4 linked regions of the Homo sapiens genome follow. The protein of the gene in region 4 interacts with the protein of the main gene of each other region in a biochemical or structural test. Each region holds a gene or a part of one and is shown on either strand. Other genes may lie near its edges. The genes, in order: YWHAQ, AHR, CTBP1 and NRIP1.

The links.
Region 1: the proteins of NRIP1 (region 4) and YWHAQ form a complex in vitro, tested with the Homo sapiens proteins (one study listed by BioGRID).
Region 2: the proteins of NRIP1 (region 4) and AHR form a complex in vitro, tested with the Homo sapiens proteins (2 studies listed by BioGRID).
Region 3: the proteins of NRIP1 (region 4) and CTBP1 form a complex in vitro, tested with the Homo sapiens proteins (2 studies listed by BioGRID and IntAct).

The regions. Positions count from the first base shown.
Region 1 is NC_000002.12:9,584,774-9,593,823, reverse strand, and holds part of YWHAQ (14-3-3 protein theta), read left to right. Parts: intron 1-2,308; coding exon 2,309-2,432; intron 2,433-5,495; coding exon 5,496-5,659; intron 5,660-6,314; coding exon 6,315-6,410; intron 6,411-8,478; coding exon 8,479-8,538; 3' UTR 8,539-9,050. UniProt on the Homo sapiens protein: Adapter protein implicated in the regulation of a large spectrum of both general and specialized signaling pathways. Binds to a large number of partners, usually by recognition of a phosphoserine or phosphothreonine motif.
Region 2 is NC_000007.14:17,300,332-17,309,381, forward strand, and holds part of AHR (aryl hydrocarbon receptor), read left to right. Parts: intron 1-9,050. UniProt on the Homo sapiens protein: Ligand-activated transcription factor that enables cells to adapt to changing conditions by sensing compounds from the environment, diet, microbiome and cellular metabolism, and which plays important roles in development, immunity and cancer.
Region 3 is NC_000004.12:1,231,302-1,240,351, reverse strand, and holds part of CTBP1 (C-terminal-binding protein 1), read left to right. Parts: intron 1-2,014; coding exon 2,015-2,169; intron 2,170-2,174; exon of another isoform or gene 2,175-9,050. UniProt on the Homo sapiens protein: Corepressor targeting diverse transcription regulators such as GLIS2 or BCL6. Has dehydrogenase activity. Involved in controlling the equilibrium between tubular and stacked structures in the Golgi complex.
Region 4 is NC_000021.9:14,959,210-14,964,525, reverse strand, and holds the end of NRIP1 (nuclear receptor-interacting protein 1), read left to right. Parts: 3' UTR 1-3,291; downstream 3,292-5,316. UniProt on the Homo sapiens protein: Modulates transcriptional activation by steroid receptors such as NR3C1, NR3C2 and ESR1. Also modulates transcriptional repression by nuclear hormone receptors.

The sequences.
Region 1 (9,050 bases), on a different chromosome or scaffold from region 4:
ATCTCTTTTGCTCTGTCTCCCAGGCTGGAATGCAGTGGCACGATCATGGCTCACTGCAGCCTCCACCCCCGGGGTTTAAGCCTTCCTTCTGCCTCAGCCTTCCAAGTAGCTGGGATTACAGGTGTATGCCACCACACCTAATTTTTTTAAAATTCTTTGTAGAGACAGGGTCCCATTATGTTGCCCAGGCTGGTCTCAAACTCCTGGGCTCTCAGGCAATCCTCTTGCCTCTGCCTCTACTTCCCAGAGTGCTTGGATGGTAGGTGTGAGCTGTTGTACGCAGCCTCTGTTTATTTTCTTTAAAAATAACTTATGGGCCAGGCGCAGTGGCTCACGCCTGTAATCCCAGTACTTTGGGAGGCCGAGGTGGGCAGATCACTTGAGGTCAGGAGTTTGAGACCAGCCTGGTCAACATGGTGAAACCCTGTCTCTACTAAAAATACAAAAGTAAGCTGGGCGTGGTGGTGTGCGCCTGTAGTCCCAGCTGCTCGGGAGGCTGAGGCAGGAGAATCATTTGAGAATCACCACTGCACTCTAGCCTGGGCAACAGAGTGAGACTTTGTCTCAAAAAAAAAAAAAAAAAAAAAGACATGGATGCAGTGATTGCATTTTGTTAGACCACTTTTAGTCAGATAAACAAGAAGAAAGTTCTTGGTTAGAATTGTATATTTTTAAATTTATAAACAGCCTTCCTTTTCTTTAGCAGTTATGTGAATTTGACTCAACCTTACTTGTTAATTCTCCAGACTTGCCAACTTGGTATCATGGATGGTATTTTATATAATATTAACTGAGCGTATCTGTGGTTATTTTTCCAAAATGTAAAAAGGATCTTCTCTCTTCCCTGCTTTAAAACGTTCACTAGTTTCACTTTTCCTAGAGCAGTGCTTTTCAAACTGTGTACCTAGGCTGATACTAGCTAACATTTACTGAGTACTTAACATGTGACACTATTCCAGGCTTTGACATCTGTTACTGGTTTTATTCTCAAAACAAACCAATGAAGTAGGTATTAGTATCTTAACATTTTTATGAGAATTTCATTTTGCTTTGTAATATTTAATACAAAAAAGCTTTTTTTGTTTTTGTTTTTGTTTTTTGAGATGGAGTCCACACTGTCACCCGGGCTGCAGTGCAGTAGCATGATCTCGGCTCACTGCAACCTCCACCTCCCAGGTTCAAGCAATTCTCCTGCCTCAGCCTCCTGAGTAGCTGGGATTACAGGTGCCCACCATCACGCTTGGCTAATTTTTTGTATTTTTAGTAGAGACGGGGTTTCATTATGTTGGCCAGGCTGGTCTCGAACTCCTGACCTTGTTATCTGCCCGCCTTGGCATCCTAAAGTGCTGGGATTACAGCCGTGAGCCACCGCGCCCGGCCCTAAAAAGGTTTTTAAATGGATGACCTAGCATCAAGAAAAATGGAATCTAAGAAGATTTCTATCATATTTGTCTTTTGTGACTTTTTATACTCCAAGGCATAGCATACCATGTACTAGAAGTGAAAATTTCTTTGTATGAAATTAGGGACAAAAGACATACTCAAGAACTTTTTTAAAAAAATAATTAGATTTCGTAGACCTAAAATTATTCTTTTAAATTGCTGTGCAAGTTTCTAAACCTCTTACTCTCGATTCCTGTATTTACCTCATTTTAGATGGATACTTGAATGCAAAGGGCACTGAGTAGCACTATTCTCCCTCGTACTTGATGTTTTAAACATTTTGTTTCCCGTCCCTAAAATGAGTGCACATCCCTGTTTTCTGTTTGGTGCATTTCTACTTTTCCTTCTTCATGCCTCAAATACTCTTTCCCTGGGAAGCCTGTCTTAACTGGAGGCCATCTCCAGCAGAGCTACTCCATCTGTGTGCTTCCTTAGCACCGTATTCACATCTTTCTTAGTTCTTGGTATGTAGTTGGTGTACTTACAGACGGTGAGCTTCTTGAGGGCAGGGGCCTGATTTTAAGTCTTCTCTATATCCGTTATAGCACCTAGCAGGTATGAGTAAATGTTGAATGAATGGATGAGTGAACAGATAGGCTGTTTCAAATTACAATGTTTGGTGTAATCTAGAATCTAGCCTTACCATTAGAAACTATAGGCTACATCATTTAAAGCCTCCCAGGGCAACTAGTGGCAACAACCTAACCCCTGCTCTAAGAACATGCTTCAAGTCCAGGCTGGTATGGTATAGTATTACTGTAGTAGTAAATGATTGAAATGCCCGCTAGGCAGAAGTTTTATCATTTAATGATAATGCACAGTAGGCAGAAGTTTAGTGCCTAATGTTCTGTCTTATTTATTTCAGGAATTGTTGGATAAATATTTAATAGCCAATGCAACTAATCCAGAGAGTAAGGTCTTCTATCTGAAAATGAAGGGTGATTACTTCCGGTACCTTGCTGAAGTTGCGTGTGGTGATGATCGAAAACGTAAGTTTATTTGTTATATGGGCAAAAGTAGAATATAAAAAAAAGAAATGGGGATAAATGGGACACTATGACAGTATACGTAGTCTTCAGGCTCTTTGTGACTTAATAATTGAATGTATGTCAAGAAAATTAGTATTACCTTATGTTCTCAAAAATGAAAATTGGATTATAAATTTACATCACATGCTCTTTAAAAAAATTAAGCTCATCTGTGAACTCTGTAATCTCATATGGTATTATTTAAAACAGGATTAATCTTTTATGCTTTTTAGAATTTTGGTTCACCATATTTTTAGCTCCAGAGTTTTTTGTGTAAACTTTATGAGTGATTCTGCATTTCACATGGCCTTTCTATTATGCCTTAAAACTTCAGATCACTGGAAATTACATACAGAACGTGGAAACAGGTTGTTGTGCTTTTGCTGTTTGTCATATTCATTATCGTCTATTTTAAGGGGTCATAACATTGACTGCTAATTACATATAATCAGATTTCTGAGGAGAGGTGAAATGAGTGTGTTATTGCTGGTGTATAACTTGCTCCAACTTCACAGTAAGTTTGAATGACTCATGGTTAGGTTTTACTTGAGAAGGTTGAATATACAGGAACTGTTGATTAATCAAGTAGTGGTCATAAAAATAGATTTTAGTATTAAATACCTTTTTTTTTTAACCTAGACTATCATAGAAAACATGGATATGAGAAAAAGTGACCGAATTGCCTAACTTGATAATAAAAAAGTGAAGTGAATTTATTTGCAGTGAATGTCTCTTGGGATACTGGCAGCTGAATATAAGATAGATCTCATTAAATTTAGTGTATGTGCTTGCTACCAGATTTATCAAGTTCTAGGTATTAGAAGTGTCAGTCCTTATTTTTTCCAGTAAGTTTGTTGTTTTGTTCTTAATTTTGCCCTGTCTACAAAGATATACCCCTACAAATAGTTACTATGATCTGAAAATGAGAGTTTTGCCATCCTAAATATCAGTGTAACTGAATATATAAAGAGAACTTGTACCTGAGAAACTGTTATACCTTGCTATAACAAAATCTATATACTAAACTTACTTATTCTGTTACTGATGTGTAATTTCTGTTGCCATGAAGGTAAGCAGAATTGGACATGATACGGGCACGGAACTGTACATTTAAGTATCAGAAAGCCAAAGAGAAGTATTTGGGAGATTGAGACATAGCTGTAGCTTTAACCTGATTTAACCCTTAGGAGCTCATTGGCACTTTCAGGTCTCACACGTAGTCCTGTGTACATTCTGATAGGCTGCGATTCATAGATAGGCTGTCTTTATAGCCTAATTGCTGAGACACTGGTGCTTCCTAATTTGCCAAGCTGCAAGAACTTCTTATTGCATGTGGGCTGTACCAGTCAGGGATTAGATCAATAAATGTGCCATTTCAGAGGAAAGAAAATGAACATAATTCAGGTCATAAAGGGATAGCTTAATTCTCTTACGTCAGTATCTCTAAAGCTGTAATAGGCCAGTGGCCTCATACAGAAAACTACCCTTTTCAAAACATGGGTATAATCAGATTAGTGTTGGTAATACTGAACATTTTTTGAAGGGGGAGTAACATTTTAATTAGGCTAGTAATCAAACTCTGGTCAGAGCAGATTTTGTCCTATTTATTGAAACTTTTATATTGCCTTTCAAATAATACCACTTGATACTAAGAATCAGTATTTCTGCAAATCAGAAAAATAGAGATTTTGGTGTTGATGATCTTTGTAAAGTTTACATTATTTAGGGAAAGGGTATTCCAGTCAAATTATTATTATTATTATTAATTTTGAATGGAGTTTTGCTCTTGTTGCCCAGGTTGAAGTGCAATGGCGCGATCTTGGCTCACCGTAAGCTCCGCCTCCCGGGTTCAAGTGAGGCTTGTGCCTAGCCTCCCAAGTAGCTGGGATTACAGGCATGCATCACCACTCCCATCTAATTTTTGTATTATTAGTAGAGACGGGGTTTCTCCATGTTGGTAAGGCTGGTCTTGTACCTCCAACCTCAGGTGATCTGCCTGCCTCAGCCTCCCAAAGTGTTAGGATTACAGGCGTGAGCCACTGTAAATTATTCCAGTCAAATTATTTTTAATTGCTGCATTTCCAAGTAATAGAATTAAAAGACATAAAATAAGAAAATAGTTTTAGCCTAGGTATGGAAAAAAGTCTGATTTACTATAATATCTCATGTTTTTTTTCCATTAAGCTGTTTATATGTAAGCAACATTCTAAACTGGTTTTTTGTTTTGTTTGTTTGTTTGAGACAAACTGTCACTGAGGTTGGGAGTGCAGCAGCATGATCTTGGCTCACTGCAGCTTCAACCTCCTGGGCTCAAGGGGTCCTCCCACCTCAGCCTCCCAAGTAGCTAGAGCTACAGGCACGCACTACCATGCCTAGCTATTTTTTATTATTATTATTTTTTGTAGAGACAGGGATAAGATCTCCCTGTGTTGCCCAGGCTGGTCTTGAACTCTTCAGGTTCAAGTGATCCCCCTGCCTCACCTTCCCAAAGTGTTGGGATTAGAGGCATGAGCCACTGCACCTGGCCATAAACAAGTTCTTAAATACCCAGTACACAATATTGTTTTTGTTTGTTTGTTTTTGACACAGAGTATCGTTCTGTTGCCCAAGCTGGAGTGCAGTGGTGTGATGTCGGCTCACTGCAACCTCAGCCTCCCAGGTTCAAGCGATTCTCATGCCTCAGCCTCCTGAGTAGCTGGGATTACAGATGCCCGCCATCACGCCTGGCTAATTTTTGTATTTTTAGTAGAGATGGGGTTTCGCCATGTTGGCTAGACTGGTCTTGAACTCCTGATCTCAAGTGATCCACCCACCTCGGCCTCCCAAAGTGCTGGGATTATAGGCGTGAGCCACCGCGCCTGGCCACGATAATGTTTTTTGTTAGCTACCATGATTTTAAAAGACCCATACAGAGAAAAAATCTTGGTTCTACCAAGAGCTAGTAGCATATGTTCAAGTTGTTAATGTACTGTGTACTGGATGGTTATTTTTAATATTGCACTTCTTATTTTTCGCTCTTCACAGAAACGATAGATAATTCCCAAGGAGCTTACCAAGAGGCATTTGATATAAGCAAGAAAGAGATGCAACCCACACACCCAATCCGCCTGGGGCTTGCTCTTAACTTTTCTGTATTTTACTATGAGATTCTTAATAACCCAGAGCTTGCCTGCACGCTGGCTAAAACGGTAAGATGTGTGTCCAGGAAATACGTACTTTAGCTACAGTTATTTGAGATACCAGGTATGTTAATTTATAGGTATTTTACTTGGATACCCAGGGATGATTTCTACTATATTTATTTTGAAATCTCCTCTTTTTCTTCCCATCATGATTACCTACTCCTACCCCTGACACCTTACTCTACCCTATGATTATAAGCAGTGATGTGCCTACAGAGCATACTGAGCAGAGTAATCAAAGAAGGATAAATGATGTTAAGAAGGAAACATAAAAGATTAGAAAGTCATGCCTGCCAGGTTTGGTTACTAGAATAGCTGTGCATCAGCCACATTCCTCAAAGTGGCTCAAAACGAGAGAATAAAGAGGACCCTGTAGAGATAAGTACTACTTAACTGGAAAGAAGTCTGTTAAGCATTGCTGCTGTTCCGTTGTCCTGTGAAAGAACCAAGACATGCTTGTTTACTAAGTGTATAGTTTTATAAAATTCCAGTCATACTCATAAGTTCTTAAACTGGGAGTGTGAGAGAATGGTTCTGTTGAGTTTGTTGATGGTAGAACATAAGGTGGGTGTTCACTTATTTTGTAAAAATGGTTTGTAATTGTAGAATAACCAGTTTTCGTCAATGCACATATTTTACCATGGATATTAATATTTATCAGGCTTTTGATGAGGCCATTGCTGAACTTGATACACTGAATGAAGACTCATACAAAGACAGCACCCTCATCATGCAGTTGCTTAGAGACAACCTAACAGTGAGTTGTTTACTCTTTTAATTTTATTTTCTTTTCAGAAACAAAAGTATTTATATTTTATTTTGGACTTCGTGTCTTTTAGGGAAGATACATACGAGCTGAAAGTATGAGATACGTGTTAGTATTTTATGGGACGAACATTATTTTGTAGGCAGGTTTTCAAGTTGAATAGGCATTTTATCAGACCTTCCTGAGAAGGTTCTAACATGATAGGAACTCAATATTAATATTACTATTTCATTGGGATGAAGATGTTGATAAATTATGTTAATAAAGAGCTTATCAAGTTTCAATATTTTGGGGCAAATCAGCTATAGCCAGTTAGGGACTATCTAAATATCTACGCTTTCTTAAAATCACAGGAAGTACCTTGTTCTAATAAAAGTTTACTTTGTGAATTGTGCATGATGTTCTACAAGCATTTAGGGAGTAAACCTATACCTAAACTTACTCCTTCTCTGCTTCTAGGCAAAAGCTTCTGTTTTGTTTGTCTTTTTCTCCCTGCTTCTTAGATAGGCAATTGATAAAGGAAGTAATCAAGAAAAAGTACAGCTTAAGCTTTACTTTAACATTCTTTTGTAGGTTCAAGTAAATTTGATAGGTAAAATCTTAGACTTCACAGAAGGAAAAAGAAGGGAACAAATCTTTTAATATAGATCTCGTCCTCCCAGCCCCCTAGTTTGGTGCTTTATCATTTACTAGATAGGATTTTTTAAATATTAGCACCATGTCTATTCAATTTTGCTGAATAGGGTAATTATGAATCCACTGAAAGGGGAACGAAGACCCTGCATTTCTAGCCATGAGAAGTGCCTGTGGTTGTGAGGGGACAATGGAAGATGATCAGCAAATAGTTCTACAGAGGAAGAGCAAATTAGGCAGTTATACCTCTTCCCAGATGTATACCTTGGAGCTAACTATCTTTTAATCGGTTTTGTTTTGTTATCTCTATTATGGAGACAGGTCTTTGGGGGATTTTGTTTTGTTTGTTTTTATTTAGTATCTTCATAATAATCTAAGGATTATGTAAGATTCTGGCTTTTCTGAAATTAACACTAATGTCTTGCTGTTGGTCTAATAAAGTGCAATTATAGTCAATAAATACTGACTTCTCTTCTTCACTTCATCTTCCTATCCTAAAATCAGAGAGATCCTGGAAGATCCACTTAGTTTTAACATTCTGTCTAATTCAAGAACCCTGTCTATACATGCACACATTGCTTCCCTGTAGCTTCCATCACCCACTTCTATTTAATTCTTGGAGAAACACAAAGTAAGTCTGCTTTTCCTATAGTTTAGCCCTTCACACACTTGAAAATTGTTAACCATGATTGTGGCTTTTTCCTCCCTGTGAAAATGTTTTGCTTTATTAGTCTGTAATAATAATGCAGTAGTGCTTTCAAGAAGAGCATTGGGCTGCTGGGAATAGAGACTATCACTTTGCTTATTCTGAAAGTAGAGTGCCTTTTTAAAAAAGTTTCTCTTTTTTTTTTTTTTTTTTGAGAAAGGATCTCACCCTGTTGCCTAGGCTGGAGTGCAGTGTCATAATCATGGATCACTCCAGCCTCAACCTCCTGGATTCAAGCAGTCCTCCTGCCTCAGCCTCCTGAGTAGTTAGGACTGTAGGCACACACCACCCCGTACCTGGCCAATTTTGTTTTTGAAATTTTTTGTAGACGTGGGATCTTGCTATGTTGTCCAGGCTGTTGAACTCCTGGCCTCATGCGATCTTCTCATCTTGGCCTCCCTACGTGCTGAGATTACAGGCGTGAGCCACTGTGCCTGGCCAAATGCTTTTTAAATAAAAAGGAAGCTATAAAACCATGCTCCAGTGGTATATGTATGTATGTATGTATGTCATTTTGTAAGTGCATAGTGAAAGGTCTGCAAGGATGTACTTTGGGAAGGTGATGGTCTTTGGGGTTTTGAGAGAGAACTTCAGTCTTAGTCAAGATCTCCATTGTTTGAGGAATTTACTACTCTTGTAGTTAATTTTGATATAACAATACTACTTAGTGTAATTGCCTAATCTAGAAATAGTAACTTAATATGATTCTTCTTTTTCTAGCTTTGGACATCAGACAGTGCAGGAGAAGAATGTGATGCGGCAGAAGGGGCTGAAAACTAAATCCATACAGGGTGTCATCCTTCTTTCCTTCAAGAAACCTTTTTACACATCTCCATTCCTTATTCCACTTGGATTTCCTATAGCAAAGAAACCCATTCATGTGTATGGAATCAACTGTTTATAGTCTTTTCACACTGCAGCTTTGGGAAAACTTCATTCCTTGATTTGTGTTTGTCTTGGCCTTCCTGGTGTGCAGTACTGCTGTAGAAAAGTATTAATAGCTTCATTTCATATAAACATAAGTAACTCCCAAACACTTATGTAGAGGACTAAAAATGTATCTGGTATTTAAGTAATCTGAACCAGTTCTGCAAGTGACTGTGTTTTGTATTACTGTGAAAATAAGAAAATGTAGTTAATTACAATTTAAAGAGTATTCCACATAACTTCTTAATTTCTACATTCCCTCCCTTACTCTTCGGGGGTTTCCTTTCAGTAAGCAACTTTTCCATGCTCTTAATGTATTCCTTTTTAGTAGGAATCCGGAAGTATTAGATTGAATGGAAAAGCAC
Region 2 (9,050 bases), on a different chromosome or scaffold from region 4:
TTCGTAAACAATTTTAAGAACTCTTAAACGTCTTCTCAGACCAAATCAGAAGTGTGCATTTTGCTTAGACTCCAACTATCACTAATGGGAACCAGAAAAATAACACTTTAAGATTTACATTTAAAACCAGTTATTGGTTTAAAGTTTCATTCTAAAATTTTAGTTTCCTTTCAGAATTTCAGTTATCATAGTTCTTCAGAAGTATACTTATGAATTGGCATTAACAGAGGATAATAATCTATAAATAGACTGATGAAAATTTGGAAGTTTTATGGTACAGTGTGTCTTAAGGGAATATTGTCAAACCAGCAGTTTTCTACCTTGGCAGTTTGAGACATCGGTTATTAATACTTTTAATTTTGTAGAATGGTTTCTTATATTAAAGTATGTTTGTCTTATTTGACATTGTCATTGATGGTTAAAGTTGGGAGGCATCCCAAATGTCTGTTCTATGTGTTTATTAATATAATAATACACTTAGCATCATATATAATAGGGGTGTCATGGGTTTTATGTGTATGGTGAGAAAACATGAAGATCTCCCTGATGTGTTTTTAAGATACTGGGTTTCAGTTAGGGTGTTATCAAAGGACCTGGATGGCTTTGTAAACAAAAACAAATGCCATAATTTTGTATTCATTACACAGTTTAACATTTATGGATTTTGGTTATTTTGCGTAAAATGTACTTTTTATTAGATTATCCTAATATTATACTTACTTAGTTTTTAATATACTTGTATTAATTTCTTATAATATAACAAAAGTATTTTTTCCATTCACCCACATTTTGTTAGCATAGATGTTTATCAGATCTCTGCTGAGCACCGTATATTGCTTCTAATCATACAGATGCCTTAAATATTACCAGCTTGCTCTGTAAGAATAGGCTAGTGCTGGCATTTTCATTATCAAGTGAAAGTGTTTATATAAATTATTTTTACCTGAATGAAAAATTGTTAACTTTATAATGCAGTTAATCAAAGTTTATTTTAGAAATGAAGTCATTAAACCTAGTATTAAATTTGAGTTTTAAAATTAAACTACCAGTTTGTGGCCTAATGAGCCCCAAAACATGCCAACATTGGGGAAAATAGATCTTGTTTTGAGCTGAAAATGCTATCCAGACCTACTTAACTTTGACCTCTTAAATGAGAGCCATTTTATTTTATTTACAGATAAAATATGCTGTAGCATTATTATAGGACTGTTTAAAAAGACAGCCAATTAAATATAAATTTTATGGAATATAAGTATTCCATAAAATTTTGGAGTAAAGTAGGTGACAATTGTAACCTGAAGCTCTTTCAATCTTGAGTTGAATTTATTAAGAAAAATCAACCCCCCCTAGTGGCGGCTCTCACATTGAAAATTATCTTTATTAGTAGGAAATACATTTTAAATGTGTTCAATTTAATCCCACTGAAGTATCTCCAACATAGTAGACTCTCAATAAATATTTCCTTTCTTTTTGGAGTAATGAAGGTTGGGAAATTAAAGGCTCTGAAGCAACTTTACGTCCAATTCATGTTCCTACCTTCAAGAAGAAAATATCAAAGATAACTTTCATTATAGAATCTACTATAACTTTGCTTAGACTGTTGCCCCATACTTAGTGACCCTACTCAGAAAAAGAGAACAAATCCTGTGTTTATTTTATTCTCTTTGGAAATGAAAGTGTTTATTTATTTTGTCTCATGAAGATAGTCAAAAAGGCCATTATATAATTAAATAGAATGTTTTTCCCTAGTGATAATTTTGTATATATTTTTGTATTTTTAAGGTTTTAATCATAAAGAAAAAGTTGTAATGGATTTCAGCTTACCTGTACATAGAAAGTTAGCACTGAATGTTGGCAAATAATAGGTGTTGAGAAAAGGGGATCTACACTTTAAAATGATACCAGCTGTAGTGGTGATTAAGCCATTATGAAGTGTCAGAACTGGAAGTCACTTCTGAGCCTTAGCTGATCTTTCTTTAAAATGCATACTGATAAAAACTTTTACTTTTATTAACATATTAATAATATAAAAGCATTGTCTTGCTATTCTTTTTAAATGTCATGAATTTCATATATGTAATACTGAATTGTATTACTTACATAATACTCATTAAATGTTTTCTATAAATTTATGGTGCCATTTTTAAAATAGCATCTAAAATAAAAGAATGGGTCTTTTCATTTACACAATTATTTCTCCATCATTTTTCTTTCCAATAGCTTTAGATAGCATATACATAGTAGTTATGGACACTTGCTTATTAGAACTATGAAATGAAGTAAGTGAAAGTGTTTAGTTATAGGTAACATTAAATGGCAAAAAGAGGAAACAGGTATAAATTGAAAGCACTGGATCTAAACTAAAAAATGAGGTCTAGTTTCTTCACTGTTACAGATCTGGGCAAGTTTCTTGACCAATAAAGCACGACAGTCAGCACCTGTACTGCTACTCTCACAACTAAAACAGAACAAAAAAAAAATATATATATATATATAAACTGTGAAGACTGCTAAAGATACAAATGAAACAGAAACGTAAATTCTATTCTTTTAGCTTACATTATCACAGAACAATCAATTCGCCCGTGAAACAGTAAGAGGCAGTATACGATTATGTTCTCAATTACGGCTACGGCTGAAATGTGCTACTTCACTGGTGAATAAATTTACATAGTACGTGCTTACTCATGTATTTAATTAAGACAGTTACTTAGAAATAAATACCATACAAATCTTTTACAACAGTACCTTTCTACTTTTATGCTTCTTTTAAAATTGATATTTTGCTAGTGGCTTAATATGACAAAAGATGACTGTTTATTAGCACTTATTCTGATACAAGCTTGCCCAGTTCTTTACATCATTTTCTTCATTTTTATAATAGTACTAAAGAAAGGTAGTATTATTTAAGTTTATAGATAGGGAACTGAGATTCAAATTCAGAGTTGCTCAGATAATGAGAAAGAGTTTGGATATTGGATCCCAGGTCTTTTTGCTTCAAAGCTTGTGTTCTTACTGACTTGTGTTCGTACTGTCCAGGTGAACAGATTCAGTGATGCATACAGTACAGCCATATCCTAGGGATTTTCACTGTTTCTTCTCAGATAGTGTTATGGCTGAAATAAATTATTTGTCATTTCCCATACATAATTTGTACTTGCTCATCCCCATACTTGTGTTTTTACGTCCTTTCCTCTTAGAGTCTTTTCTCCTGTCTTATTGATTTGCTACCCACCTCCCTTCCTCTTTAAAACATTGTTTTTAAAGGCTGCATAATACTCTGTTGTACTAATATTCTATAATTTTTTTAACTGTTTTTCTTTTGGGAGGAAATTTTATTCCCAACCATTTAATACTTTAATATTTCAGAGAATACCCTTGGGACGTGTAAATTTTAATGCAAATTTATTTTTTTAGGAAAAAATTCCTGTAAGGGAATTTTGGGATAGAAAAGTATGTGTTGTTTTAAGGTTGAACCAAATCGTACACTCCAAGAGATAGTATCAAATTAAGAAAAATTTACTAATTACATTCCATCATCAATCTGGGGATGTGACTATATCTTTGCATTTTTGCTTAAAAAATATTATTGTCAATTTCATAGGCAAAAGTGTGGTTGGTAATTAAAGTTATATGTTGGGATCATGGTTATGTATAGGAGAAGCACTTGTATTTGCAGATTTTCTACTTAGGGTGTCCTTTACGTATTCATTTGTTTTGTCTTACATTTTTCAGTCATCTTTTAGTTTGTTCTTTTTACTTCTTTCTATTGAAATATTGTTTTAAAATGTATTCCTATTAAATAATACTGGCAGATTTTAAAAGTCAATTATATATGTGGCACATCTTAAGTATAGCATGTGAGGCCTTATCTTTTGATGTCTTACTGTGGTAGTTAGGGATTTTAGTGCTGTCTTGTCTCACTTTAACCTTTTTCACCTTCCTGCATCCTCCCAATATATTTTATCACAATTTTGGATTATATACACATTAGTGTTGTATTATTTTTGACTGTATATTGTTTACTGTTTAGCTAAGTAATATACTGTGATTATATTTGCCTTCCTGTTCTATGCTATTATTGATTTCTTTTCTACCATCTTCCTGTTTATTAGCATCTGGGTTTAGCTGTCACTTAGGTTCATCGGAGACAGAGTTTGTGTTTCTGGCTCCTGCTTTTCTTGTTTTGGTGTGGTTTTCTGGAAGAGAAGGGTAGTTGCAGAAAGCTAGATATTCTGCCGTCACAGAAACAGAAGTGTCTTGCCTGTATTTAAGACCCGATTTAGATGCCACATCTCCATGAACTCTTTTGCAGCACCTGTGTTACTGAGCAATATATTATGCTTGATTTTGCCATGTTATAAAATATATTTCCTCCTAGTAGGAAAAAGAATGTCTTTAAAGATAGGACTATTATTTGTCTTTGAAACTACCAGAGCTTCCCAGTACAGTACCATGCACTTAGTACATATTTGAGATGTACTAATTTAACAATTAACTACCACTTAAAATTTTTTTGGTAATGTTTTAGTGATTCTGGTAAGGCAGATACATTTTATGCGGGTTCGAGGGGGAATAAAAATGTGTGTTTGCGTAGAAGAAGGGGGAGGGGAAACAATGAGTTTTCCAGGATTATGGAACTAGTAGTGGTTTCTAGGCCATATTTCATTTTCCTGATCTTCCCTGCTAATGTCTTGTGCTAGAAACTATGCTGTTTATATCTCATCATCTCTCCTCAGGTATAGCAAACAAAAGGGAAAGGAAAGAACTCATCACAATTATAGGGCAGCAGCAGGAGGGTGGCAGAAGACTTCTGACTCATTAAAAGTGGCTTCCAGCCAGAATTCTCAGAAGTTTTTGTAGATGTTTTTGACTCATATAGGGAAATAAAATATCCAGCTGTGTTCAGCCTGACAATGAAGTTGGGGTCTATTTGTGCTATGTGTCACCTCCATTACATTAAGCACATAGTTTATGATTGTAAATATTTGAAATTTATATTCAGAGATAAATACGGATGCACTGAAGCTGGGGGAAGGAAATGAAGAATGAATGGGGTTAAGAGTTGGGCTTTATTGGGTGTAGGTAGTATGGTAGGGGGATTTTATTGAGGAATACTTCAGATTTCCTAGCTGTTAGATGGAGAGTAGCACCATAGTGCTGAGAAGCGGGTGCCCAACTCCAGGGGAATGTTGAATGGAAGGGCACAGGGTCAGGTACAGGGACTGGAAATAAAGATAAACAAGTTATGGGTAAGTAGACCAACGCAGTAAGAGTAGATTAAATCACCCCGAGGAAAAATCCGATAGAGCAAACTCAGTACTGTGAGAGGCAATCTCTTGTTAAAAAACGTCACTTTGATCTCATAGGATTACTGAAACCATATCTTTGCATGTCATTTTGAGGTTTTATAATGAATATTATATAAAACAGTTATATTTATGAGTAAACTTGGTTAATTTTTTCAGCTTTGCTTCAAACACTGGCTACAAATGATGAACCTCATAGACTTTTTTGATGGAGATGTTAAAAAGGCTTTCAAGATAGCATTCAGACTGGCATTGGGCATACTGTTGGGCCTGTTACCACCAGCAGTTAAAGCTTGCAGGGCTTCTAAACAGAAGCATGGCATGCAGTCAGCTGGAGTCTTGATTTCATAACAATTTTACAGATTGGGACAAGATTTTTGAGGTAAAGGTTTCAAAAAATAATAAGTTACTCCTTTGCCTGACCAACATCATACGGTCTATTTCAGGAGATGTTTGAACTCCAGAGCTCCCAAATCCAATCTTACAGGGATGTTTATTTATATTTCAAACAGGCTTTTCCTTAAATAATGGTTAGCAGTGTCCTTTCTTAAAGATTCGAAGACAATACAAAAGTAAAAATATTAGCGTAATCCAAGTCAAGTGCAGTTAATGTAAGATTACTCTATTTTTAATTGTTCTGTATATCTTCAAGATGTATGGATAGATATTAAATATTTTAACAAAATCTGTACATTTCTCACAAAATCAGTGAAAAAGTGGGTCAAATGCATTACCTTTGTTAGCTTTAACAATCTGACATTTTAAAAGCTTCAAATCCAGTACATCTGAATTGTTAAGTTCTGAGGGTACTTCTTAGCCCTGACCTTAATTCCTCTGTGTATTTGACTTTCTTCCTCTGTGTATTTGACTTTCTTCTATGACCTCCAAAATATTCTACCCTGGTTTTTTTCCGTCTATCATTTCTTCTCTGTGTCTATGCCTCTTCCATAGCCCTATACCTAAATGTTGGTATTACTGAGGTCTATCCTCAAGCCACTTTTTTCCTTTTCTGGTACAGCTCTCATTAGGAAATGTAGTTGTTCTTCTGAGCTACAAATCGCAGAACCATTTGCAACCTCTCCTCACTCAATGGTTTCCTCTTCCTTACTTCCTATAGTGAGTTAGTTTAGTTCAGTGAACATTTGAGTCTGGCTTAAATCTCTCTTCAAGCCAGTCCTTTCTTAACCTCACTGTCACTGCCTTTGGTCAGGTTGTGATCATTCCTTTTCTTGGCACTTTTGGTCAGCAAACATTAATTGAGAATCCACTCTATTATGCTGGGCATTAAGGATACAAAAATGATTTAAGCTTACATAGAAATAAGGGTGTTAGGCAAACAAGTATAAGCAATTATGTTACTTGACAATGGAAATTTGCTCTCATGTTAAATATTTTGTAAGACACATAGTAATGCATTAGAAATGTAGACAATTTTGCATTATGAAAAGCAAGCCTCAGAATCTAGTGTGAGGCTGAATATTGCAAAGAGCCAGCACAAGACAGGCAGCAGTACCACATGGAGGGATACCTTTATGTTACTATTAGTTCTCCCTGTGTCATAGCATGTTGCCTTGTTTCAGCGTTTGTGTCACTCTCTTCTCTCCAGTGTTTCATAATCATTACTGGAAAGCCACCAAGAGTGCAGGACTGGATTGTGTACACACTTTCTATTTCTGTGAAGTTGTTTGTATGGAATATTCCTTAATGGAATCATTATATTAGACATTTGTATAAGAAGTCAAATGGGGCAGAGTTGCTAATCCATTGTGAGGTAGGTCAGGGAGGACTTCATGAAAGTGATCTACTTGAGCGGGGACTTGAAACCAATGGGACATAACAAGGAGGTTGTATGAAAGCACTAAACCACATGTTGTAACTGTAAGTAATTTCTTAGCTCTGGGGTAGAATAGACAAAAGCGGCTTCAATAGAAGAAATGAAGCCAGAGGGGTAAATGAAGCTAGAAAGATCATGAAGGATTTTGTGTGCTAAGCTAAGGAACATGGACAGTTCAGAGCTACTGAAGGAGTTTAATCAGAGGAGTGACACAGTCAGATTTATGTTTTAGAAAGAAGTTCCTGGCATCCCGGAATCCTAACTTCAGCGAACCCTGCCCTGCTTTCTGTATACTCTATCACCAGAGTCAGCTTGGTGAAACACAGGCTGATCTTGTAAATCTCAGCTCAACACTTAAGAACAGATGCCTAAGTCCGATTTCTATCGTTACTTTGCTGTCTCCTCTATCTTGAACATTTTTGCATCAGACACCCACATAGCTCACTTCATTTTACTCATGTCTGTCCTGAAACATCACATCAGAGAGACCTTCCTAGGCTGTCCAAACCAGCATCACGTCTGTCACCCCTTAGTTTCTTACCTTGCTTTATTTTTCTTCTTAGCACTCACCGCCCTAAAAGTTATATGTTTATTTGTTTATTTCTCCATCCTCCACCTAGGATGTAAGCTCCATGACAACAGGAGCTTTTGTATATTTTGTTTACCTGTAAGTGTTCTGTGCTGGGCACTTGATAGGTGTTCAGCATTTGTTGAAAGAATGTGGCCCCAACCATCCTTCTTCTTTTCTCTCTTTCACCCTGTGCCTCTCCCTTCATGTGGGGGAATTCTTACAGTTCACTAATCCTTAGTTATGCCTCTTCATGAAATCCTGTCCCTCACTCAAGATCCATCTCAGATACCACCTTTTCTGTAAAATCTTTTTTCAAGCAGTTGCTGCTTCTGCTTAGCTCCCATAACACTTTTTGAATAGTTAGGAGAAAAGTGTTTACCTGGGCTGTACAGGATGTGATGGATATAAATAAATACTTGTCAGCAAGTTATTAATTAACCAGTAGAGAATTACACAATGAGGTAGACAAGCATTATAGGTAAAGTTTGAAATTCAGTTGGTTAAGTGGAGAAGTGAAGTAATTAGGTGTGACTTGAAATTTGTTTATAAATGCAATATGATTAGGGGAAAATAGCTAGGGGAACCATCACCAATTTCTATTATATACACAGTTGTACAGACAACCTGGAGAAGGTATCTGTTGATACATACATAAACACACACACACACACACACACACACACACATCATTTTACCGATGTATTACCTTTTTTGTAGAAGTATTTACTTTTCATCTTCTTTCTGCCTAAAGTATTACTTCTCCACATACATCACTGAAAAGAAATTATCTAGAAATGTTTTGATTGGGTCATATTAATAGCACTATGCCCAGGCCAATTTCTACTTTACAAAAGCTGATATAATTCCATTTGAATTGTCAAAAATGTCTTTGTTGTAAGAAAACGCTAGATAATTACTCTTCTGGCTAACAGGAAGGTATAGAGGTATAAGGTATAAATTACTTTAGTTTCCCAGTTCAGCGTGGGTATCTGATGATTTTTAAATTCACTTTAAGTGATTAATGTCTGCTGTGAAATCCTGGCTGGGGTCTTTGTGTGAAGTTATTCAACTTTTCTTTTCTGAACTCATGTTCCTCTTTGACCCATAAGTGTCTTTATTCTCAGGTGAAAATCATGCTAAATTGTTTAGGGTTCCGTTGAACTTTCTAATTGAGACACAAGCTACGAAAGCTAATAATTAAGTATAATTATTGTCTACATGTAAAAGCAAAAGTTGCTGGTAATCACCATTAACCTCTAATATTTGCCAACAAGAAATGTAAATAGCAAAAGTCAAATTTATTCTTCTTTTAATATTTGAGGACCACATTAGATGG
Region 3 (9,050 bases), on a different chromosome or scaffold from region 4:
TCCCCCACGCGGTTCCGACGAGGGACCCGGTTCCCACTCACCCAGCACCCGGGAGTCCCCCCAGGCGGTTCCGACGAGGGACCCGGTCCCACTCACCCAGCACCCGGGAGTGCCCCACACGGTTCCGACGAGGGACCCGGTTCCCACTCACCCAGCACCCGGGAGTCCCCCACGCGGTTCTGACGAGGGACCCGGTTCCCACTCACCCAGCACCCAGGAGTCCCCCCAGGCGGTTCTGACGCAGCCGAGCGGTCTGCAGTGATCCCGTGTGTCCATGCCTTCCTCATCAGAAGTGAAATCCAAGGATACTGAGAGCGGATGTCTATCCACTCACTCAGAAACAGCAACATAAACCTTTCTGCTCATGAGAAGTCATCACCACCACACACAGCGGGGAGGGAGGCCACGTGCAGAGGGAGGCCATGTACAGTGTCACTGGGCGGCCTGTCTATGGTGCTCGTGGGCAGCTCCCGTCCAGAGGGAATGAAGGAACAGGCGAACCAGGACGCGGTTTTGACCGTGCAGACCTCACGTTTGGGATCTGGTTTCCTATCTTGAAGGAAAGTGGGTGGAATGGCCAGTGGCTCCTCCGAGGACGCCAGGGCGCGAGGACCTCACGGGAGGGGCATGGGCCCAGCCGTACTGGGAGCCCTCGGCTTTGGGGTGGTCAGTGGAGACCCATGCCCCGTCCCCTGCAGGCGTGTGCTGCAGGCCCACTGCACCCCTGGGCTGTCCACCAGAGCATTTCTTTTCTCTGCCATGGGTTCCAGGAGGCACTTCCCTGCTTCCTGGATACTGGCAGCTCGGTGGCCTCTGCTCACCTGCAGGCGGATGGGGCAGCGGATGGGGCGGGAGACTGGGCCGAGCGTGCTTGTGGCCGCGGCCACTGGAGAGCCTGCTGGGTCACTCTGCTCCTTGGTTCTGTCGTGCGCCTCCCCTCCTGCTGGCCGAACGGTCCTGGGTACTGCTTGGTCTCCTGTGGCCGGTCTTTGGAGGAGGAGGGGAGGGACCGGCTGGGCCCTGGCCCCAGCTCCGCCTCTGCCCAGCTGCCGTGGGGCTGACAGTGGCCCCACCTGGTGCTCCCTGCCTGGCACGGGGCGGTCGGGCGGTGCCTGGAAGCTGCCATGCTTCTGTGACGCCTCAGAGCCCTTATTTCTCCAGTTGGCCCCGATGAGGCTTAGTTGCGTCATACGCGAAAGGAATGGGTGTTAATGAGCTTTAATCATCTGGTTCTGGGAAGGTCAGGGGCACAGAGTGGACTTTAACAGGTTTTAACCCTTTTCTTCCTTTGTTCTGTTTCTTTTCTCTTCACATCTATAATTGGAAGTAATGCCAGGCAGAGGGTTGGGGGCGTCCTACGTGAAACACTGGTGACCCCATCAGGGATTCCGGGCAGCCACGCGGTAGCCCAGGCAGGAAAGGGACAACCATGTTCCCAAAGTCCCGTGCTGTCATCTTGTGTCCTCCAGTGTCCTGGGTCCCTCCTGTCCCCCTGCCTCATGGAGCTGCCCTGGGGTCTCGGACGGTCTGGGAGGGTCTCGGGGGGTCTCAGAGGGTCTTGGAGGGCCTAGGAGGGTCGGGAGGTGTCTCGGTGGGTCTGGAAATGTCTTGGGGAGTCTCAGAGGGTCTGGGAGGTTCTCAGAGGGTCTGGAGATTTCTTGGGGGGTCTCGGAGGGTCTTGGAGGGTGTGAGAGGGTCTCAGAGGGTCTGGGAGGATCTCGGAGGGGCCTTGGAGGGTCTCGGAGGGGACTTGGAGGGTCTCGGAGGTCCTGTGCCCAAGGGAGATGGTAGTGGGTGTCCACAGTCTGTGTCCACTTGAGTCAGCGAGCTGAGGCACACACGAGTTGTCTTTCACGTGGATTTTTAATTTACTTTTTACAAATATCACAACATATAGACCAGAAAACCCCCGGCGGTCGGCCCTCGTTGGCCCGTGCACAGTGGGTGGCGTGGAGTGGGTTGTAGCCACGGGGCCGCAGTGGTGCAAGGCTGAGCACTTGCCTCTGTCTTGCAGGCGTCCGACCTCCGATCATGAACGGGCCCCTGCACCCGCGGCCCCTGGTGGCATTGCTGGATGGCCGGGACTGCACAGTGGAGATGCCCATCCTGAAGGACGTGGCCACTGTGGCCTTCTGCGACGCGCAGTCCACGCAGGAGATCCATGAGAAGGTACCACCACGTGGTCGCCTGGGGCTGGCAGAACCGCACGTTGGGGGGAGTTGGAGGGACGGGAGCACGGCAGGCCCGGGCCACAGCAGGTCTGGGTGCCACTGGGGCAGGAGCAGCCTCTGTCCCAGTCGTCCCGCGCCGTCAGGAGGTGGACACGGGGTTTTCCCTGGACACCATCAGGAGGTGGACATCGGGTTTGCCCTGAGCCCCATCAGGAGGTGGACACGGGGTTTTCCCTGTGCCCCATCAGGAGGTGGACACCACGTTTGTCCTGAGCCCCATCAGGAGGTGGACATTCGGTTTGCCCTGTGCCCCATCAGGAGGTGGACACGGGGTTTTCCCTGAGCCCCATCAGGAGGTGGACACTCGTTTTGCCCTGTGCCCCATCAGGAGGTGGACACGGGGTTTGTCCTGAGCCCCATCAGGAGGTGGACACGGGGTTTTCCCTGAGCCCCATCAGGAGGTGGACACGGGGTTTGTCCTGAGCCCCATCAGGAGGTGGACACGGGGTTTGTCCTGAGCCCCATCAGGAGGTGGACACGGGGTTTGTCCTGAGCCCCATCAGGAGGTGAACACCGGGTTTTCCCTGAGCCCCATCAGGAGGTGGACACAGGGTTTGTCCTGAGCCCCATCAGGAGGTGGACACGGGGTTTGTCCTAAGCCCCATCAGGAGGTGGACACGGGGTTTTCCCTGCACACCATCAGGAGGTGAACACCGGGTTTTCACTGAGCTCCATCAGGAGGTGGACACGGGGTTTGTCCTGAGCCCCATCAGGAGGTGGACACGGGGTTTTCCCTGAGCCCCATCAGGAGGTGGACATGGGGTTTTCCCTGAGCCCCATCAGGAGGTGGACACTCGGTTTGTCCTGAGCCCCATCAGGAGGTGGACACCGGGTTTTCCCTGAGCCCCATGAGGAGGTGGACACTCGGTTTGTCCTGAGCCCCATCAGGAGGTGGACACTCGGTTTGCCCTGTGCCCCATCAGGAGGTGGACACTCGGTTTATCCTGAGCCCCATCAGGAGGTGGACACTCGGTTTGCCCTGTGCCCCATCAGGAGGTGGACACTCGGTTTCTCCTGAGCCTCATCAGGAGGTGGACACGGGGTTTTCCCTGAGCCCCACACTCGGTTTGTCCTGAGCGCCATCAGGAGGTGGACACTGGGTTTGCCCTGTGCCCCATCAGGAGATGGACGCTCGGTTTCTCCTGAGCCCCATCAGGAGGTGGACACGGGGTTTGCCCTGAGCCCCATCAGGAGGTGGACACCGGGTTTGCCCTGAGCCCCATCAGGAGGTGGACATTCGGTTTGCCCTGAGCCCCATCAGGAGGTGGACACCGGGTTTGTCCTGAGCCCCATCAGGAGGTGGACATTCGGTTTGCCCTGAGCCCCATCAGGAGGTGGACACCGGGTTTGTCCTGAGCCCCATCAGGAGGTGGACACTTGGTTTGCCCTGTGCCCCATCAGGAGGTGGACACTTGGTTTGCCCTGTGCCCCATCAGGAGGTGGACACCGGGTTTGCCCTGAGCCCCATCAGGAGGTGGACACCGGGTTTGCCCTGAGCCCCATCAGGAGGTGGACACGGGGTTTGTCCTGAGCCCCATCAGGAGGTGGACACTCGGTTTGTCCTGAGCCCCATCAGGAGGTGGACACCGGGTTTGCCCTGTGGCTTCTTGATTCATTTTCAGTTTTTTCCCAGAGAGCAGGTCCTCGGGATGCCAGCTTTTGTGGCGGGGGTGGAGTAAGGTGCTTCCCCCGGCCCCAGTTGCGCGGCGGTCTTCACACGGGCGGTCTCGGCATTGCCCGCGGCCTGGCTTTGGTCCAGCAGTGAGCAGCCTTTGGGCAGCTTTCCTGATTCTTGTTTGCTCAGGAGACCCACAGGCTCCTCCGTGATGAGAACTAGGTTGGTCTGGCTTCTACTTGTAGCCAGGGATCAGTGATTCAGAGCAGCTTTTCCCTGAAGACAGACGAAGAAGCTGGGCCCCCAGGAGCTCACAGGATAGGGCCAGGCCCAGGCTGCAGCCTGGAGAGGCCTATAACCTGCAGGAACGGGCGGGCCTTGCCAACTCTGGCCTGGGGTGTTGGCTGTTCTGGAAGAAGTAGCTGAGAGGCTGAATTTGGCTTTGGTGGCATCACTGGCCTGCTGGGTGTGGGGCCCTGCCGGGATATCCATGGCCTGAAAGGTGACATCTGGAGTGAGGGTGACCTGGACTCTGACGCGCCACACGATCGGCACCCAGCCTGCTGATGTCCAGGAAACCTTGAATCTGGATTTTTGGGGACCCCGCACTGCCGGCCCCAGGTGCCTGGCAAAAGAAGTAAGACGGCCCCTTTAGAGGAAGACAGCGTCAGCCGAGGCCTCGGGTCATTTCTACAAATCACCATCTGGTGCGGGGTCCATCACATGCAAACAGAGGTAACCAGGCAGTCAAGGAGATGCGCAAAACGCAGAAGCCAGGGAAGCAGTGCCACCCGCAGGAGCTCCCCGTGCTGCCCACGAGCCGATCACCCCAGCCCAGCCCCCAGGAGGCTGGGCCAGACACCGACGAAGAGCTGATGACTCTGGAACGGGGCGTAGCAGCGTTAGGGGAGAAAATGAGATGCGGATCTGAGAAAACGGCGAAGCTGATCGGTGGAACTGAGGGGCGGGTTTACCAGCTGACCAGGCGGCAGCGGACAGGAGGGAAGGAGAGAACGCGGGAGAGGGCGAGATGAGGAAGGGTCGCTCTTGCAGAAACTTCAGAACAGGAGAGGGAAGGGGTTGGAAGTGATGATGACAGCAAAACCCTTTCCAAAATGGACGGAAGAAAATCTGATGTTAAAAATGCGCGTGGTCTGCCGGGAGCGTCTGCTGGGGCGTTCGCTCTGGAAGATTCTTCATGGTTTCTCACACGGGTAGATGCGTGCTTGTAATGCAGCCCAGTGGCCACACTCCTTTATCCCGGAGACTCGGAATGCGCGTCCACACACAGACCTGCACGTCATGCTCCCTAGCAGCTTAACTCACCATAGCCCAAACCAGAAGGACGCCCCCCACCGGCTGTCCTTCAGTGGGTGAGTGGCCAGGCAAATGCTGGCCACCTCCCTCGGTGTCCTCCTCAGCAACAGGCATGAACGCTGGGTCCCTGCCACACCCTGGGTGATCTCGGCAGCATGATGGCGAGTGAAGAAGCTGGTTTCAAGGGGTGCACACTGTATGATCTCTTCATCCCCAGGTGATAGGATTAGCGTGACGGAAACAGTGGCCCGGGGTGTAGGTGGGGGGGCCGCCGGCAGGCCGGTGTCTGGAATCGGCACATGGGCACGTTGGCACGTCACGTGGGCATGTCCACACGCATGCAAGGGGCTGTGGGTGAACTGCCCGTGGTGCACACCTGAGGGAGTTGTGTGGCACCAGCTCGGTTTGGACAGTGCCCTTTGTTAGGTACGGTTTTCTCATTGGGAAGCTGGATTTGTATTAAAGATGCACACGTAAGAATAAAAAAGAGGCTCGTAGAAAACTTTTGGTGTCGTAAACAATACTCAAACAGTTTTGCCAACAAATTGGAAAGCTAAGGCAAAACAGATGTTTTTCTAAAATTGCAGTAATCCCAAACTGCCTTGACAGGTTCATATAAAATGCAGATCAGTGGTTGGGGTGGGGCCGGCGTGGGCCCTGGCATGAGACAGACTTCCTGCTCCCCACCCAGGCTGCACAGCCCAGGGCAGAGAAAGGACAACATAAATACACAGAAAACTGCCCCAGGGGATGCAGCTGGATTCTTGGAAGAGACGAGAGTGTTGGGAACCGTCCTGGCATCCTGGAGGGGCCTGAAGCAGCCCCTAACCAGAAGCAGAGCCGGCGCCACAGAAAGGAGCCCCCAAGAACTAGGAGAGCTTGAAATTAAAAACATGAGTGAAAATCTCATAAAAACAGGAAGCTCAAAGACACAGGGACATTGCAGAAGCCAGAGAGGTGAAGAGAAGCCGTGACCTCCCGGGGCTGTGTGTGGAGTCTGCAGGGGCTGCCTGGATGCCGAGTCCGCGTTTCGCAGTGTGTGGTCCTGTGGGAGGACTTGGCTGCCCACGCTTTCTTGCCACTAGGGGTGGCCAAAGGATTGAGCTCCAGAACAGAGGGGAGCAGGGCCTCTCCCTGCCGTCCCCTCCTCGTCCCTGCTGGCTGGAACCCGGGGTAGCCACCTTGGACTGTGAGGGGAGCCACGTGCTGGGAACCGTGGAGCAACAAGGCAGGAGGCAGGGACCCTCGTGGCTGTGGAGAGGGCAGCGGGGCCGCAGGCTCCCTGTCTCCAGGCTTTGGCGTGGGAGGAAACTGAACACCTGCTTTGTGTGCCACTGTTAGTCAGGAATTCTGCCTCCTGGGGCAGAAACTTCCCGCATAGCTGGTTGGAGGTCGCCGCCGTCTGAGTGCCGTGGAGGGAGAGAACGTGATACCGTCAGTGCGGTCACAGGAGGAGCGGGAAGAATGTCGGGGCCTGGGAGGCGCCCCAGTGTTCAGGTTCAGGACTGGGATTTTACTGATACCACGGGTGGGGGATGTCACCCACCGGGACACAAGACTCAGCCCAGCCCCACTCGCCTGCTTTGGAATTTCCACAGGAGAAGGGTTTTCAGCCCAGCACTGCACATCTGATCAAACTGCTGAGCAAGAAAAAGGAAGCCCTGGAGCCTGGAGGCTGCGTCCGGTGTGGGCTGCGGGGCCTGGAGCGGCAGGGCGGCTCCGGGAGGGCACAGGACGCAGTGGCCTGCGAGGACCTGCAGCCAGCTGGACAGTTGCACTCCTGCAAGACAAGCATCTCCACGCCTTGGGGGTGGGGAGGCCACCAGAAAGCTCCGCCAGACAGAGGTGCTGGGGCTGTGCAGGAAACGAAGTGATTAGAAATCCCGGAAAAACACACAAGCAGGCGTTGTCATGGTGACTGGGAAAAACACACAAGCTGGCGTTGTCATGGTAATGGAGTGTAGGACAGGCCTGGAGCCCCTCGGTCTCTTGCTGGCGGCTGGCACAGAGACGGGCTGCCGTGGGCTCTGACCTTAATACCGGGTCACAGTCGCTTCTAGGACCAAGAGGACAGAGACCCCATCACCGTATGCAGGGGCCTGTTTCCAGGCAGACTGCCCAGTGCCCAGCTGAGCCTCGGGTGCAGTGCGACCCCCGCAGGGCATGTCCAGACCCCAGGACCCCCTCTCAGGTCTAGAAGATCCAGTTGGGCAGTGTTGGTACCACCAAGAGTAGACAGGACAGAGGATCAGAGACAATCCCACCCAGCAGGACCCAAGGACTCAGGCAGTGGCTTTTCAGGTGTGTGGGCCGAGGACTGGGGAGTCGGTGAATTCTGGGGCCCCTGGGGTGGCCGTTCAGGAACTGCAGCAGCTCCCCCCACCACAGATGCTCGCTGCCTACTGAAGCGGCCACGTGTTTGAATGAAGAGCAGTTAGAGGAACGCTTGCAAGAGAATGTGTTTATTACCTGAGGTTATGACAATACAGAACATACAATGTTTTCTGTGGAAAATGTGATACTACAGAGGAAAAGGTCACTTTAATTAAATGGCAATTAGAAGTAACAGCATTGCAAGGTGGGGTGCAGCAGCTCACGCTTATAATCCCAGCACTTTAGGAGGCTGAGGCGGGTGGATCACTTGAGGTCAGGAGTTCAAGACCAGCCTGGGCAACATGGTGAAACCTCGTCTCTACTAAAAATATAGAAATTAGCCACGCGTGGTGGTGCGCGCCTGTAGTCCAAGATACTCAGGAGGCTGAGGCAGGAGAACCTCTTGACCCTAAGAGGCAGAGGTTGCAGTGAGCCAAGATCGTGTCACTGCACTCCAGCCTGGGCAACAGAGCAAGACTCTGTCTCAAAAAGGAAAAAAAGAAAGAATGACATAGCAAAATAAATTTAAAAAATAAAAACGGGAGAGGTAGGGGTTGGGTATTTTCAATTTGTGTGCCAGCCTAAGGGTGAATGTCTGATAACACTCAGAGCTGGTGCAGGGGCTGTGCCTGTCATCCCAGCGTATCCAGAGGCCAAGGCCAGAGGATCGCTTCAGCCTAGGAGGTCAAGGCTGCAGCGAGTCATGATTACACCACTGCAGTCCAGCGAGGTCCTGTCTGTAAAATAAGTAAATGAAAAAGTTTATATATTCAAAGACTCCTCCCAATCAGTAGAAACAGAAAAATCCCGACAGAAAATGGATGAGGGCGGTGGCGTTTGGTACAGACAGAGCGGTGTATGAGAACCGGGGTGCGCCTCCTGGGTTCTCACAGGTGCAGCAGGCACCGCCGGTAACCCCTGGCCTGGCCTGCGCTGAGCCCTGCACCAGCCGTGCTGAGGGAGCCTGGGCCTGGCCCTTCATGTGGGATAGAAACGGCCGTGCCGGTCTCGATGGTGCTTTGGCAGTTTCTCTGGAAATCTGAAACCTGCGGTCTTCAGCCCAGCCCCACCCTGGGCCTGCATGTGGCTGCGTGTCGTAGAGAAACATCTGCCCTGATGGTGACCTGATGTGAGCAGCAGTTTCACAGAGTAAGCCACCCCTGTGCACGAGGTCTGGAAAGGTAAGTGCGACGTCGAGTCCTGAGCACAGAAGCAGGTGGCAGAACTGCATGGCAGGAGGTGGGCTTGGCGGGCCCCTTCCTGACCCCCAAGAGCCAGCTGCCACCAGGAGCGTCCTGGGGTCTGTTTCCAGCCCGGTGGCAGCCGAGCTTCCTGGGCACCCAGCTTTCCCCAGCCTGCTCTGAGCACTGGAGTTGAGGGCACTGAGCAGAGTGGGGCTGAGCCCCTGGCGGTGGAGGGGACACATCAGTGGGTGTTGGCTTGAGGTGGTTTCTGGGAGGCTGCTGGGCCCCGATCTAAAGGGACACACCTGGCTGCACCCACCTCCTGCAGAC
Region 4 (5,316 bases):
AACTACTGAACTAGCAATTGGTTGTTTAACACTTCTGTATGCATCAGATAACAACTGTGAGTAGCCTATGAATGAAATTCTTTTATAAATATTAGGCATAAATTAAAATGTAAAACTCCATTCATAGTGGATTAATGCATTTTGCTGCCTTTATTAGGGTACTTTATTTTGCTTTTCAGAAGTCAGCCTACATAACACATTTTTAAAGTCTAAACTGTTAAACAACTCTTTAAAGGATAATTATCCAATAAAAAAAAACCTAGTGCTGATTCACAGCTTATTATCCAATTCAAAAATAAATTAGAAAAATATATGCTTACATTTTTCACTTTTGCTAAAAAGAAAAAAAAAAGGTGTTTATTTTTAACTCTTGGAAGAGGTTTTGTGGTTCCCAATGTGTCTGTCCCACCCTGATCCTTTTCAATATATATTTCTTTAAACCTTGTGCTACTTAGTAAAAATTGATTACAATTGAGGGAAGTTTGATAGATCCTTTAAAAAAAAGGCAGATTTCCATTTTTTGTATTTTAACTACTTTACTAAATTAATACTCCTCCTTTTACAGAATTAGAAAAGTTAACATTTATCTTTAGGTGGTTTCCTGAAAAGTTGAATATTTAAGAAATTGTTTTTAACAGAAGCAAAATGGCTTTTCTTTGGACAGTTTTCACCATCTCTTGTAAAAGTTAATTCTCACCATTCCTGTGGTACCTGCGAGTGTTATGACCAGGATTCCTTAAACCTGAACTCAGACCACTTGCATTAGAACCATCTGGAGCACTTGTTTTAAAATGCAGATTCATAGGCAGCATCTCAGATCTACAGAACAAGAATCTCTGCTAAGTGGACCTGGAATCTTCCATCTGCATCTTAACATGCTCTCTAGGTGTTTCTTGTGTTTGAGAACCATGACTTATGACTTTCCTCAGAACATGAGACTGTAAAACAAAAACAAAAAACTATGTGATGCCTCTATTTTCCCCAATACAGTCACACATCAGCTCAAAATTTGCAATATTGTAGTTCATATATTACCGTTATGTCTTTGGAAATCGGGTTCAGAACACTTTTTATGACAAAAATTGGGTGGAGGGGATAACTTTCATATCTGGCTCAACATCTCAGGAAAATCTGTGATTATTTGTGTGTTCTAATGAGTAACATCTACTTAGTTAGCCTTAGGGATGGAAAAACAGGGCCACTTACCAAACTCAGGTGATTCCAGGATGGTTTGGAAACTTCTCCTGAATGCATCCTTAACCTTTATTAAAACCATTGTCCTAAGAACAATGCCAACAAAGCTTACAACATTTAGTTTAAACCCAAGAAGGGCACTAAACTCAGATTGACTAAATAAAAAGTACAAAGGGCACATATACGTGACAGAATTGTACACAATCACTCCATTGGATCTTTTACTTTAAAGTAGTGATGAAAAGTACATGTTGATACTGTCTTAGAAGAAATTAATATATTAGTGAAGCCACATGGGGTTTCAGTTGCGAAACAGGTCTGTTTTTATGTTCAGTTTGTACAATCCACAATTCATTCACCAGATATTTTGTTCTTAATTGTGAACCAGGTTAGCAAATGACCTATCAAAAATTATTCTATAATCACTACTAGTTAGGATATTGATTTAAAATTGTTCTACTTGAAGTGGTTTCTAAGATTTTTATATTAAAAATAGGTGTGATTTCCTAATATGATCTAAAACCCTAAATGGTTATTTTTCCTCAGAATGATTTGTAAATAGCTACTGGAAATATTATACAGTAATAGGAGTGGGTATTATGCAACATCATGGAGAAGTGAAGGCATAGGCTTATTCTGACATAAAATTCCACTGGCCAGTTGAATATATTCTATTCCATGTCCATACTATGACAATCTTATTGTCAACACTATATAAATAAGCTTTTAAACAAGTCATTTTTCTTGATCGTTGTGGAAGGTTTGGAGCCTTAGAGGTATGTCAGAAAAAATATGTTGGTATTCTCCCTTGGGTAGGGGGAAATGACCTTTTTACAAGAGAGTGAAATTTAGGTCAGGGAAAAGACCAAGGGCCAGCATTGCTACTTTTGTGTGTGTGTGTGTGGGTTTTGTTTTGTTTTTTTGGTTGGCTGGTTGTTTTCGTTGTTGTTAACAAAGGAATGAGAATATGTAATACTTAAATAAACATGACCACGAAGAATGCTGTTCTGATTTACTAGAGAATGTTCCCAATTTGAATTTAGGGTGATTTTAAAGAACAGTGAGAAAGGGCATACATCCACAGATTCACTTTGTTTATGCATATGTAGATACAAGGATGCACATATACACATTTTCAAGGACTATTTTAGATATCTAGACAATTTCTTCTAATAAAGTCATTTGTGAAAGGGTACTACAGCTTATTGACATCAGTAAGGTAGCATTCATTACCTGTTTATTCTCTGCTGCATCTTACAGAAGAGTAAACTGGTGAGAGTATATATTTTATATATATATATATATATATATATATAATATGTATATATATATATATTGACTTGTTACATGAAGATGTTAAAATCGGTTTTTAAAGGTGATGTAAATAGTGATTTCCTTAATGAAAAATACATATTTTGTATTGTTCTAATGCAACAGAAAAGCCTTTTAATCTCTTTGGTTCCTGTATATTCCATGTATAAGTGTAAATATAATCAGACAGGTTTAAAAGTTGTGCATGTATGTATACAGTTGCAAGTCTGGACAAATGTATAGAATAAACCTTTTATTTAAGTTGTGATTACCTGCTGCATGAAAAGTGCATGGGGGACCCTGTGCATCTGTGCATTTGGCAAAATGTCTTAACAAATCAGATCAGATGTTCATCCTAACATGACAGTATTCCATTTCTGGACATGACGTCTGTGGTTTAAGCTTTGTGAAAGAATGTGCTTTGATTCGAAGGGTCTTAAAGAATTTTTTTAATCGTCAACCACTTTTAAACATAAAGAATTCACACAACTACTTTCATGAATTTTTTAATCCCATTGCAAACATTATTCCAAGAGTATCCCAGTATTAGCAATACTGGAATATAGGCACATTACCATTCATAGTAAGAATTCTGGTGTTTACACAACCAAATTTGATGCGATCTGCTCAGTAATATAATTTGCCATTTTTATTAGAAATTTAATTTCTTCATGTGATGTCATGAAACTGTACATACTGCAGTGTGAATTTTTTTGTTTTGTTTTTTAATCTTTTAGTGTTTACTTCCTGCAGTGAATTTGAATAAATGAGAAAAAATGCATTGTCTCTGGTTTGAAATGACTGTTATTTTGTGGGCTTTCTCTGGTTTTTAGGTTTTCCATAAACGTAAAACACATTGCTATGAATATAACAGTGATCTTCAAGGATGTTTTGCCCTTCTTAGAAAAATAAAGGGGACAAAAAAGAAGGTGGCTGGCAAGTTAGTGCACTAGAAACAGGGTAATTAAGGCATAACTCAAAGTGACAATCAGCCTATGGCCTTTCTCCCATGATTCAGTGTGTAACTAGTTGATCACTGTAAATTTTTAAACTAGAAAATAGTTTGTGCAGTATTCAAAATTAATGTTGACTATATGTATATACATACACACTTCATTTTAGGATAAGACTTTATCAGAAGGCTTTTATCCAGTTTTTAATGGGTGTGGTTTATTTTAAATAAAAGAAAAAGGAGTTTAATAATTTTCCAAAAATGAATGTGTATGTATATACACGTGTTTACATGTTTAAATATATGCTGTATGTGTATAGGTAATGAGTAATTGATAAGCAACATACATACTCAATAAGTATTAGAGACCAGTGGATTCCAAGAAAAAAAAAAAAACTTTGTACCCAGGTAAACTTAACAGCTTAGGAATTTTTATTTTTACAAATAATGATAATTTATGAGAAAGACATTTTCCCAAAGAGGAATTCTGTTTCCTGGGACCCAGATAGGTCTATTGTAATCCATGCAGCTTCTCTCTTAATAGGTTTATAAATGTCTAAAAATGTTCAAGTAATAAAAATACTTCCTGCTGTTCTACATTATTAAAATGTTGAAAAATTGCATCTTGCTATTTGTATAATAACAGAATGAGAGATGCACAACCATGTCTTCTTTTATTTACATGGTGAAAAACCCTGACAAGTGCATCAAGTAGTGAATTGCCCAGGAGGGATTTTTATGAAGAGAAGCACCAGTTAGCTATTCTTGATTATAAAATAGTGCCTGTGACTTTAATATGGAGGGTCTTTAAAAATCAATTCAGATTAAAATCACATACTATATAAGGTTCTATTTCAAGCTTGTTAGTGTGGAAAATCATCAACAAAAGTAATTTTGAAATTTATTTTCCTACCACTGGTATCACTCAACTATGACCTGTTTGGCTGTAGGAAACAGGTTTTAAATGTTCATTATTAAGCATACTGGTAATTTTTTTGTTTATTCCATAAAACTTGTATCTAATACTACCTCACCTTATAAGGGTTGGTAGAGGAAGCTTTTGGCATCATTTAGCATCATTTAATACTCCAATTCTCTATAAGTGGCTGGCACAACAATATCTACAACATTTTTCAGATTCCATCTTCATAAATAAGTTAAAGACTCTCACTCTAAAAGCCAAAATTTATGTACTTGAGTTGGAGGCCGAATAATAGGAAATAGAGTCCCATAAATTCCAGTCCTGGGGAGGTGCTGTTGCACTTTTGATGTCCTCTTATGAGTGTCTAAAAGTACGCATATAAACCTTTTAATCAGTAAACCAAATTTTGAAATAGTATACCTTTGCAGTCAGAAGAGAATTTTTGAGACATTCAAAAGTCTTCTTACAGCCTTTATGTTGACACAAAGTCCTAGACAACCACCTGCTTTCCCTCTGTTGCCTTTACCAAACTTCATTGGTATGTGTTCCAAACCTTAAGAAAAGCTGCAATCCTTTTGGAATATTCATTTTCCTCACTTCAGCTGAGAAACATTCACCTCTGAGATCACATCTGGAAAAGAAAATGACCTAACGTTTTATAGTTGTCATAGCCCACATTTTTGGAAAGCTATGTGAACGATGCCACACAATAGAGCCGCAGTGCAGGTACAGTGCATTGTCTGAGATTGTATTTTCCCTTAGCTAATTGATAAAATAATTCAAGAATAGAACCATGGGGTAATTTTCTTATCATTGGAAAACTACAATTTTCTCTAAAGGCCTAAGGGTTGCCTCTGGCAAACATTAATAGCTGATCTTTCCACAAGCTAGCTTCAAGTCCTTAAAAGACTTTTAGCACCAGGTTGGATGTGCTAGC